3 linked regions of the Homo sapiens genome follow. The protein of the gene in region 1 interacts with the protein of each later gene in a pairwise test. Each region holds a gene or a part of one and is shown on either strand. Other genes may lie near its edges.

Region 1 (4,294 bases):
GAAAGTGCCTGCCCACTGCAACGGAGCCGCCAGCACCTCCTCCCCTCCAGATCCGGGCCCCAGGCTGCTGCCGCTTTTTATAACTTTATATTATTTTTTTTTAAGAAAAAAAGCTCTTTAAAATACCTCAAGACTGTCTCCCTGTTCTGTTGCTGCTATGAAAATATAAAAACAGAAACATAGAAAAGGAAGGAAAAAAAATAACAAAATGAGTGTCCTTACTGTCCCCAGCCCTACCCTGGGAGGCTGAGATGATAGGCAGCCAGACTCCAGCTCCCATAGCTTGCCTGCAAAAGTCTCTTATGCTCATTATTATTATTATTGTCATCTTGTCATTTTCAATAGTGTGAAAAATGTTTGTGTCACTGGGGTAGTCTTTCCAGACAGGATGATGAGGCGTGTGGCTCTGAATGAGTAAGGCTTCCTGAGTCTTGACACCAGAGACGACTATGGTCCCATTGGGAAGAGAAACTCGAGAGGGGGAGCTGCACTTCTGGCTCTTTCTAGGATCCTTGCCCCGAGGGTCTGGGAATTGGCTTGTGACCCTTTTCTGGTCCTTCAGCAACCCTAGGCATCCATCCCTCCCTGAATTATTGCCTGCTTTTCTTCAGCTGTTCCTGCAGCCTCATTTTCTCAGCCACTTAGGGAGCTTGAGCTGGGTTGGTCATTGCTGTTGGGATATTCCTGTTTTCTATTGGACAGCCTTCCTTCCCTGCCTGTGGGTTTGCCTTTAAGGAAGGGGTAGAACCTTTCCCAGGGAGGCCTCCTTGGGTTGAACCACCCCTTTTTTGGAGGCAGGAAGGGAAAAGGCATCATCACTTGCAGAACTGGTGGTGTGGGAGGCCACAGGAGTGTGGGAGGCCTTGGTCCTTCAGGATCACCTGGCTCCTCAGGGCTGAGCAGCTGCTGAGGAGGCGGCAGGGCTGGGAGTGCCCTAGTTTTTCCATTTATCTCGCTGGGGACCACTCCCGTGCAGATGCGAGAGGAGACTTGCATTTCCCTCCTTTGGTCCACCAGGTTCAAGGCACTATATTTTGGCGATGTCCTTTCCTATTCTCCTTGCTCTTAGGCATGGAGGAAGCTTGTTCCCTGAACAAGACAAAATGAGGTGACAGGAGACAGTGCACAGCCAGGGAAATCCAGTACTACTAGAAATCGGCTCCAAACACTTGTTTCACAGTCTTGGTTCAGCGTACCAAGTGTGTGATTTGGGGTTTCACTGAAATCGTTTGCCACAAAAGTAATTTCCACAGGCTGCTTGGGATTTAGGCCCTTGTAGACAGACACACAGATACAAATGAAGGTGGGCTGGGAACTGTTCGGTCCCCTTCTGCCTCCGGGCTCTCGCGGGAGCGGGCCTCTCCGGGGCACTCGCGTTTCCCCCCCAGCCCCCAGAGGGCGCTGTGGGCCACTCCGCCGCACTGCCGGCGGCGTCCCCGGGGAGGAGCCTCTCCTGCAGCCGCCACCGCCTCCGCGATCGCAAACCCGGAAGACGTGTTCGGGCAGCTGGAGTGTACGGGCCCGCGGGCCACGGCCATGCAGCCCCTGGAGGTAGGTCTGGTTCCCGCTCCAGCTGGGGAGCCGAGACTGACCCGCTGGCTGCGGAGAGGCAGTGGGATCTTGGCGCACCTGGTAGCTTTGGGCTTCACCATCTTTCTGACAGCGCTGTCCCGGCCAGGAACCAGTGAGTGTGCGGGGCGGGGTTGCGGAAGGGGGCGGAGTGGAGATGCTGGAGGGGCAGCGCTTGGGAGCCCCGGGAGACTTGGAGGAGGGACCCCAGCAGTAAAGGGGAGACAGAAACAGTGGAGGGATTTTGAGGGCCTGGTGGGGCGGGGCCCCAGGGATCCTGGAATAATGGGGTTTTGGGTGCTGTGGGGGAAGGGCAGACGATTGAACAGACCGAACTACTTCCTCAGAAACAGGTCCCCTGATGGAGGATAGAAGTGAAGGAGGCCGGGCGCGGTGGGTCATGCCTGAAATCCCAGCACTTTGGGAGGCCGACGCGGGTGGATCACTTGAGGTCAGGAGTTCGAGACCAGCCTGGCCAACATGGTGAAACCCCGTCTCTACTAAGAATACAAAAATTAGCCAGGCGTGATGGCGCGCGCCTGTAGTTCCAGCTACTTGGGAGGCTGAGGGAGGAGAATCGCTTGAACCCGGGAGGTGGAGGCTGCAGTGAGCCGAGATTGCACCACTGCACTCCACCCTGTGCGACAGAGCGAGACTCCGTATCAAAAAAAAAACAAAAAACAACAACCAAAAAAAACAAAAAACAAAAAAGGGGCAGAGGACTGGGCTGCCAGCTGAGAGGTGCTGAACGGGGAACCCGGGCCAAACTGTTGTATGTGTGTGGATAAGGAGGCCCTCTTGGTTGCTCACCCTGGGGCTCCTTGGCTGCTCCACTTTGTCCTTAGTTCCTGTGCCCGATTAGGATTGGGGATGGTACTTTTCTCCTGTGGCTAGATTCTTTGGGTTCCACCTAGCTACAGGGGCAGGAACAATGGTACCAAGCCCTCAGCCTGTTCTCTTTGATTCTTAGGTCTTTTCTCCTGGCACCCTGTATTCATGGCCTTGGCGGTGAGTTTAGGCTTCTATCTGATTTGTTTGGGTATTCCTCACCTCATTCTCCCAGGGAAGCACCCAGCTTTCAGAAAGCTCAGCCTTTCTAAGGCTAAGACAGGTGGAGGAAACATCTAGGGCTCATCTTTCCCTGCAGCCTATGGGATTGGGAAACCTGGAGGGCTGGGCCATAGGCAGTTGTCAGATGGTTGAAAAGGGCGGGAGGGCATGGAAGATAATTTCTTTCTCCATTGGGGCCGGAAAGGAGAAGGGGGGAGAGGTGTTATCCGGTCATCTCCCGACTTGTCCCCAAAGTTCAGGAAGAAGTTTAACATTTGCTACTCCACTGGTCAAGAAATGGGAGTCATTGTAGAGGTTGGGATGGGGAGATGTCAACCTGAATGAGGAGACGTGCACTCAAGTGCTGATTCCCAAATGTTCCCAGAAATGTTGAGCTGTGAGGCTGGTGGTCCTGGTTGAACTTATTTAACCCTTACCCTTTGTCCTCTTTGTTAGGATGTATGAGAGCACCTCCTTTTTCTCAGGCCTCCAAGCCAGACATGAGGCTTACTGGCTCTCTCCTATGTTCACAGTTCTGCCTCTGCATGGCTGAAGCCATCCTACTCTTCTCACCTGAACACTCCCTGTTCTTCTTCTGCTCCCGAAAAGCACGGATCCGGCTCCACTGGGCAGGGCAGACCCTAGCCATCCTCTGTGCAGCTCTGGGCCTGGGCTTCATCATCTCCAGCAGGACCCGCAGTGAGCTGCCTCATCTGGTGTCCTGGCACAGCTGGGTGGGAGCCCTGACACTGCTGGCCACTGCTGTCCAGGCACTGTGTGGGCTCTGCCTCCTTTGTCCCCGGGCAGCCAGGGTCTCAAGGGTGGCTCGCCTCAAGCTCTACCATCTGACATGTGGACTGGTGGTCTACCTGATGGCTACAGTAACGGTGCTTCTGGGCATGTACTCAGTATGGTTCCAGGCCCAGATCAAAGGTGCGGCCTGGTACCTGTGCCTGGCACTGCCCGTCTATCCAGCCCTGGTGATCATGCACCAGATTTCCAGATCCTACTTGCCGAGGAAGAAAATGGAAATGTGAGTTCCTGCGAACGCTGAATCTAGGTGGGACGCTTGCCTTGAACATCATGGTTCCTTTGGTGATCTATAAGGGATCTATTTAAGAAGTGGTCAGGTTTTCGCACTTCTTGGCTGGTCCAGGGACTGCAGAAACCAAAGCTGCTATTGTTGAGGAATAATTCAGTGGGTCAAAATGGGGAGATGTACTGGGTATGAGTGGAAGGTGATGGAGAGCCTGATCCTGAAGCCTCTACTTGATGAGAGACAGAGTTTTGGGTGGTGATAGTGATGTGCTGGTGGTCATTTCTTGCTTGTGTGCCTGATGAAAAACTGGGTTCCTGTAAGTTATGAATGGCATCCAGGGATATTTGGGTTACTTTTAAGAAAGCAGTGTGATGTAGTGGAGAGAGCCCATGGGTCTTATTTATGGGATATGGTCCTCTTAGGCTCTGTTGTACAACCTTAGGTACATTCCATATCTTAAGACCACTGTTTCTTCATCTGTGAAATGTTTCTAAACAATCTCTAAGTCCCTTCCTTCTCTAATATACAGCGTCTGTCAGGTCGATGTCTCAGAACACTCTCCCAGCTGTGGACCACGTGGACCACTTAGCAGACTCAGGGGGTAGTTCTTTACTCTCCCTTTACTACCCTGGAGGG
Region 2 (3,651 bases), on another chromosome or scaffold:
AAATAAATTGATGGTCAACCTAAAATGTAAAAAAGAAATTAATAGAAAATTTAAAGAGCAACAAAGCTCTGACATTTAAAAGAAATGAAGTACAAATCTCTAGGGACCTTAAAGATCATCTAATAATTTCCTCATTTTCTAGATAAATAAACTGAGAGACCCCGAGGATAAATGATTTGCTCAAAGTCAAATATCTACTTAATATAGGAAATTTAATTTCATTCTCAGTCTGTTAACATGCAACTTTTCAATATAGCATGTTATTTCATGCTATCAGAATTCACAAGGTACCAATTTAATTACTACAGAGTACTTATAGAATCATTTAAAATATAATAAAATTGTATGATAGAGATTATATGCAATAAAACATTAACAAAATGCTAAAATACGAGACATATTGCAATAAAGTATTTATAAAATTGATATTTATATGTTTTTATATCTTAAAGCTGTGTCTGTAAACTGATGGCTAACAAAACTAGGATTTTGGTCACTTCTAAAATGGAACATTTAAAGAAAGCTGACAAAATATTAATTTTGCATGAAGGTAGCAGCTATTTTTATGGGACATTTTCAGAACTCCAAAATCTACAGCCAGACTTTAGCTCAAAACTCATGGGATGTGATTCTTTCGACCAATTTAGTGCAGAAAGAAGAAATTCAATCCTAACTGAGACCTTACACCGTTTCTCATTAGAAGGAGATGCTCCTGTCTCCTGGACAGAAACAAAAAAACAATCTTTTAAACAGACTGGAGAGTTTGGGGAAAAAAGGAAGAATTCTATTCTCAATCCAATCAACTCTATACGAAAATTTTCCATTGTGCAAAAGACTCCCTTACAAATGAATGGCATCGAAGAGGATTCTGATGAGCCTTTAGAGAGAAGGCTGTCCTTAGTACCAGATTCTGAGCAGGGAGAGGCGATACTGCCTCGCATCAGCGTGATCAGCACTGGCCCCACGCTTCAGGCACGAAGGAGGCAGTCTGTCCTGAACCTGATGACACACTCAGTTAACCAAGGTCAGAACATTCACCGAAAGACAACAGCATCCACACGAAAAGTGTCACTGGCCCCTCAGGCAAACTTGACTGAACTGGATATATATTCAAGAAGGTTATCTCAAGAAACTGGCTTGGAAATAAGTGAAGAAATTAACGAAGAAGACTTAAAGGTAGGTATACATCGCTTGGGGGTATTTCACCCCACAGAATGCAATTGAGTAGAATGCAATATGTAGCATGTAACAAAATTTACTAAAATCATAGGATTAGGATAAGGTGTATCTTAAAACTCAGAAAGTATGAAGTTCATTAATTATACAAGCAACGTTAAAATGTAAAATAACAAATGATTTCTTTTTGCAATGGACATATCTCTTCCCATAAAATGGGAAAGGATTTAGTTTTTGGTCCTCTACTAAGCCAGTGATAACTGTGACTATAAGTTAGAAAGCATTTGCTTTATTACCATCTTGAACCCTCTGTGGGAAGAGGTGCAGTATAAATAACTGTATAAATAAATAGTAGCTTTCATTATTTATAGCTCGCAAAATAATCTGTATGGAAGTAGCATATATAAGGTATATAAACATTTAGCCTCTTGATAGGACTAACTCACATTCTGGTTTGTATATCAGTCTTGCCTGAATTTAGCTAGTGTGGGCTTTTTTTTATCTTGTGAGTTTGCTTTATACATTGGGTTTCTGAAAAGATTTCTTTTAGAGAATGTATATAAGCTTAACATGTACTAGTGCCAATCTTCAGACAGAAATTTTGTTCTATTAGGTTTTAAGAATAAAAGCATTTTATTTTTAAAACAGGAAATAATATAAAAAGGAGAGTTTTTGTTGTTTTAGTAGAAAACTTAATGCCTTGGATGAAATGAGCCATGGGCAGGGTTGTAATGAATTGATATGTTTAATAGTATAGATCATTTGTGAATAATATGACCTTTGACAAGACACAAGCCATTAACATCTGTAGGCAGAAGTTTCCTTCTTTGTAAAATGAGGGAATAAAATAGATCCCTAAAGTGTGTAATTTTAGTATTTCTAAACTTTATGAAGGTTTCCTAAATGATAATTCATCTATATAGTGTTTTTTTGTGTGTTTGTTTGTTTGTTTGTTTGAGATGGAGTCTCGCTCTGTCACCTAGGCTGGAGTGCAATGGTGCAACCTCGGCTCACTGCAACCTCTGCCTCCTGGGTTCAAGCTAATCTCCTGCCTCAGCCTCCTGAGTAGCTGAGATTACAGGCATGCACCACCATGCCGAGCTAATTTTTGTATTTTTAGTAGAGAAGGGGTTTCATCATGTTGACCAGGCTGGTCTTGAACTCCTGACCTTGTGATCCACCCACCTCAGCCTCCCAAAGTGCTGGTATTACAGGCGTGTGCCACCACGTCCAGCCTGAGCCACTGCGCCCAGCCCATCTATATAGTTTAATATCAATCTAAATGAATTTCTCAGTCCTGAGCCTAAAAATTTAGTTGTAAAGAATGATATCCTTGACTAATAATAGTTTCTATTAATGGATTGCATCTAGTGCTAGGTGGCATATATTTAGTCCCCACAACTACCCTGGAAGGTATTTAAAATTTTTCACATTTGCAGATAAGGAAACTAAAGTTCAGAGTTCGGCAACATGCTTGAATTCAAGCAGCTCCTAGGATGTTAATGGTGGAGGTTGGGTTCAAATCCAGATCTGTCTGACTCAAAAAATGCATACTCCTAACCAGTGCACTATATCCCAATTCCATAGGAGCCCTTCTTTGTGATTCATAGCACTTTCCCATGAGTTTTGTTGATTTTGTGAGAAACAAAACTCTTTTTCCTTTGGACTGTCTGGAATCTCTCTTTTTCAAATTTTTGAAATGTATTTCTATGCCAAAAGACAAAGATTTCTAGAGGAATATGCCTAGGATGAGAATTATGTAATTTAAATCACAGCTGGAAAGAGAGAAAGTCCTAAGTTACTAAGAAATGTTCAAACACAAATGAGCTTTCAGTCTATTGGAAGACCTTTATAGCTAGAAGTATACTGAACTGTACTTGTCCATGGACCCCTGAAGAAACAGGTTAAATCAAAGAGAGTTCTGGGAAACTTCATTTAGATGGTATCATTCATTTGATAAAAGGTATGCCACTGTTAAGCCTTTAATGGTAAAATTGTCCAATAATAATACAGTTATATAATCAGTGATACATTTTTAGAATTTTGAAAAATTACGATGTTTCTCATTTTTAATAAAGCTGTGTTGCTCCAGTAGACATTATTCTGGCTATAGAATGACATCATACATGGCATTTATAATGATTTATATTTGTTAAAATACACTTAGATTCAAGTAATACTATTCTTTTATTTTCATATATTAAAAATAAAACCACAATGGTGGCATGAAACTGTACTGTCTTATTGTAATAGCCATAATTCTTTTATTCAGGAGTGCTTTTTTGATGATATGGAGAGCATACCAGCAGTGACTACATGGAACACATACCTTCGATATATTACTGTCCACAAGAGCTTAATTTTTGTGCTAATTTGGTGCTTAGTAATTTTTCTGGCAGAGGTAAGAATGTTCTATTGTAAAGTATTACTGGATTTAAAGTTAAATTAAGATAGTTTGGGGATGTATACATATAT
Region 3 (3,651 bases), on another chromosome or scaffold:
TACCAGTGCTGTGCTGGTATTTTCTTTGGCATAAAACTGATCAGAAACAGGACTCACCACCCTATTAATCATTGAGTGGGAGGGATGTTTTCACATTGTGTCAAATGGCCAACCTTTCAGATTTGAATTCAGATTTTCACTTATTTTTAAGGAAATGTGCACAACACACAAGCAGGCATGATACAGACTAGCTTAGCAATTCAGCCATGTTATATAAGGATGTGTGTTCCTCCCAGCCACTGTATATGTGAGATAAAGAAAAAGGGGGGGAGGGGCAAATCAGATATCCTTAGGGGGAAATTTTTTTAAATGTACTTTTGTGGTCTCTTGGCTTTTCACAGGAGTCTTTATATTCCATCCATATTACAGCTTCATTTATAACATTTATTTGGGTGCATTCCGAGCTTTCATGTTATCTACACAAAGTCAGCCATTCATCTGCCCAGGTCTTGATTACCCTCGCTTTTTACGTTGTCTCTAATCATCCTGATACACGATGGCTGACACTTCATTACGGCAATAAAAATAAGTATGAATGAATTTCCAGGGGTGGGGAGGACTTTGTGGATCGAAGTTGATGTGTAGCCTTTAAAAGATTTGCTAGCAAATAAAAAATGTGAAATATGACATGAACATTCATCACCATAGAAACGTCATCTTTTTAGATTGCAAACATTTTGCTGATGAATTAGCAGTATTACGCTAATCAATAACAAACATTCTTAAAATGTTTGCTGTGAGAAGTTTAGTTCTTTTTTTCTTTTTGTTCACATTATTTGTACCAACAGAGAAGAAAGGTAGGCATACAAAAAGCCTTGGGACATAGATTTCTATCAAAGTCAGGCTATGGAATAGGAGTTTTGAAGGTGTATTAGACATCATCCTCAATTAACGTTCATGAAGAACCCACGTGATGTTTATACCAGGCATTAAAAATTTTCCTACCCCTCCTCAGCTTTTCCTGCATTCATAGTGCAATCCTGGGTGATGCTTTTAATTCATTTTTTGACCCATTCCCCATACCTTATATTTAGATACGTTAATAGTAAATTGCCACCTATTGTTTGTATTGCTACCAAACCAAAAAGAACCTATGGAAATGTTTTGTGTCTTCATCCTTGAAAGCTAGTGGTGCCTGAAATGCAGTCTACAGAGTTAAGATAATGGGAACTGCAAGTCAATGAAAGTAATAGTTCTGTCTATCAACGTTGCATTTAGTGCCAGGAAAAGATGGGCTAATTCAATACTTACATTTTGCCATAATGCTTATGAAACTGTTAGGTGTCACTGTAATGCATTTTATTTAAAGTTCAGATAAAAATGTGATGGATTAAGTTGGATTTCTAAGCAAGGCATATCAATTCAATCTCTCAATAGTTTTCATAACATATTTAGTCTGCTGGCCTTTTCCTTCAAATAGCATTTCAAAAAATTAACAGCAGTCATTTTCTCTATTCAGCTGGCAACTTTATAGATTTCTGTGCTATAACTGTCATACTTGTCATCTAATGCTATTTAGGGTATGTCAAATTAGTTACCATCCTTGCTACTACCAGACATTTTAATACTCCTCAAGAGATTATTTTATAAAATGCATATTATCATCTTGTTTCTACTGAGAGACCTTAACCTGATTTCCACTTGGGCTCCAAGCTTAGAGAGGAGTGAAGGGCAGTGGGAAAATGAAGTCTTCATGGATTGTTAAAATTACCTCTGTAAAAAGAAATGTTGGAACACGGAAAACTGAGCAGAGAATGATAGAATTCCAGAATAATTTGCATTTGCAGAGATCATTAGATTTGGTGCTAGTGGTGGTGGTGCTGGCTGGGGAAGAGTAGGACTTAAATGTGGTCCTGAATCTTTTACCAAACCATCAGACAAAGGGAATTAAGCGTCAGTAGATGAGGCAGCCCTAGTGTGAGTGTTGCCAGGACATAAAGAGCAGTTTGGACCGACTTTTGGCCTCTTCCCAACTGATCATGAGCACAGGGTCAGAGTTGCCTGAGGCTGGTTGTTCGCAGAGTCTGCGCATCCTTCCGGGCTCATTTGCTAGTCTGCAGGGAGCATCCCTGAGTCTGAGCAGCCAGTTCTCACATCTCAAGCTCGCCACCTTCCTGGCTGCATAGGCTGTGTGGCCACCCAATGGCTGACGCAGTGCGCTCTGCTCCCATCACAGGGCCTGGCAGGGTGGCGACAGCAGCAGGAGGCCAAGGGCTGCAGGGACACCTGACCTATGGGGGCAGGTCTCACAATTCCTTGGAGAGAGCCCTGCCTTGATTTGCTGGGCAGCCCTAGGAAGCAGCCTGTAGGGGCCACAGGATGGGAGCAAATGTCACTAGGGGAATATTTCTGCCAGAAATCGAGAGAGCCTGTTGATCTGACCTGTCAAACTATCTCCCTCCCTATTTTCACATCATCATCAGGGAATGAAATTTTTGAGGCAGGAGAGATTCAGGTGAAATGGCAGAGCAAGGTCAAAATATATATAGGGAGGAAGGGAAACCTAGCAATGAAAGCGTCAAACCTGTTTTCACTGTTTACGGAAAGTTATCATCAGGGTGAATTGGCCTTCTGATATCCAGAGGCACAACACACCCCTCACAATCTCTCTCCATCTTATGCACAGGTTTTCATTCCCAAGTTTCCCTAGAGTTAAATACTGTCTAATCATAGACACCACATTCATCCAGAAAATGAATATGAATTATAATCCTTATTAATTTCCTCACTTGAAAAAAAAAGGGTTAGGGAAAGAGAAATGAAGGAGCATCGGGAGGGAGGAAATGGCTGTGATTTCAGCTGCGAGCATAATGAAATGGGGAGTCAATGAGGCAGAGAGGAGTGAAGGGTTGCTCCAGACCTCAGTGGCCACAGCAGCAAAAAAGCCTTCTCACCCTTCGTGGATGGGTAAACTGAGGGGGTCAGCATCAGAGATAGAGGGGTACCACACGAGGCCACAAGGACATAAAACAATGCTGGAGAATGTACAATAGATACACAAGTCCTGATCCCGCTAAAATGGGCTCCCTCCCAGCTTATATCTTTACCCAGTGTCTGTCTGGCCACATGCCTGAGGCTGATAAGAGAGCACTCCAGTGCAGGAGATAAGCTAGCCATTGACTTTTGTCCCTGCTCTTCCCCATTGCCTTCCTTTATCTTGTTTTGCCTGTGCTGGAGATGAGAGACAATCACATCCCAGGCTTCAGACAGATGTCCAGGATGTGGAAGATACCTTTTTATCAGATGCTATTTCCACAATGGCCCATCTTCTAAAATTTTTGCTGCTGTGCAAATCACGGACCTATCGATGACAGGCTTTTGTGGAGCAAGAGGAGAAAACTGAATGCTAATGACATATTTATAATCACATTTTAAATAATAGCCTCAGGAGAGTGTGGATGTCAATCCATTTAGAGAGTTTTAGAGGAATCTAGAAGTTAATTAGATAAGCCTTGCGATGGACTAATCAGTCGATTGAGTATATCTTTCTGTATCTTGTTGATAAAACAGTGATGTTGACTGTATGTGGCCTTATTTTAAATCACAACTATGGAGGAGCGCTGTTGTTTATAATTAACAAAGAAGAATTGACAAGAATTAGCTTTGTCCATGCCATCTTTAGACAATCATCACCTTTTGAATCCAGGGCAA

The links.
Region 2: the proteins of CYB561D1 (region 1) and CFTR interact in binary tests that used the Homo sapiens proteins (3 or more experiments, as listed by UniProt).
Region 3: the proteins of CYB561D1 (region 1) and GAD2 interact in binary tests that used the Homo sapiens proteins (3 or more experiments, as listed by UniProt).

What each region holds. Positions count from the first base shown.
Region 1 is NC_000001.11:109,492,604-109,496,897, forward strand, and holds the start of CYB561D1 (probable transmembrane reductase CYB561D1), read left to right. Parts: upstream 1-1,490; 5' UTR 1,491-1,536; coding exon 1,537-1,684; intron 1,685-1,916; coding exon of another isoform or gene 1,917-2,020; intron 2,021-2,539; coding exon 2,540-2,577; intron 2,578-3,075; coding exon of another isoform or gene 3,076-3,152; coding exon 3,153-3,656; 3' UTR 3,657-4,294. UniProt on the Homo sapiens protein: Probable transmembrane reductase that may use ascorbate as an electron donor and transfer electrons across membranes to reduce monodehydro-L-ascorbate radical and iron cations Fe(3+) in another cellular compartment.
Region 2 is NC_000007.14:117,591,482-117,595,132, forward strand, and holds part of CFTR (cystic fibrosis transmembrane conductance regulator), read left to right. Parts: intron 1-452; coding exon 453-1,176; intron 1,177-3,448; coding exon 3,449-3,577; intron 3,578-3,651. UniProt on the Homo sapiens protein: Epithelial ion channel that plays an important role in the regulation of epithelial ion and water transport and fluid homeostasis. Mediates the transport of chloride ions across the cell membrane.
Region 3 is NC_000010.11:26,219,667-26,223,317, forward strand, and holds part of GAD2 (glutamate decarboxylase 2), read left to right. Parts: intron 1-3,651. UniProt on the Homo sapiens protein: Catalyzes the production of GABA.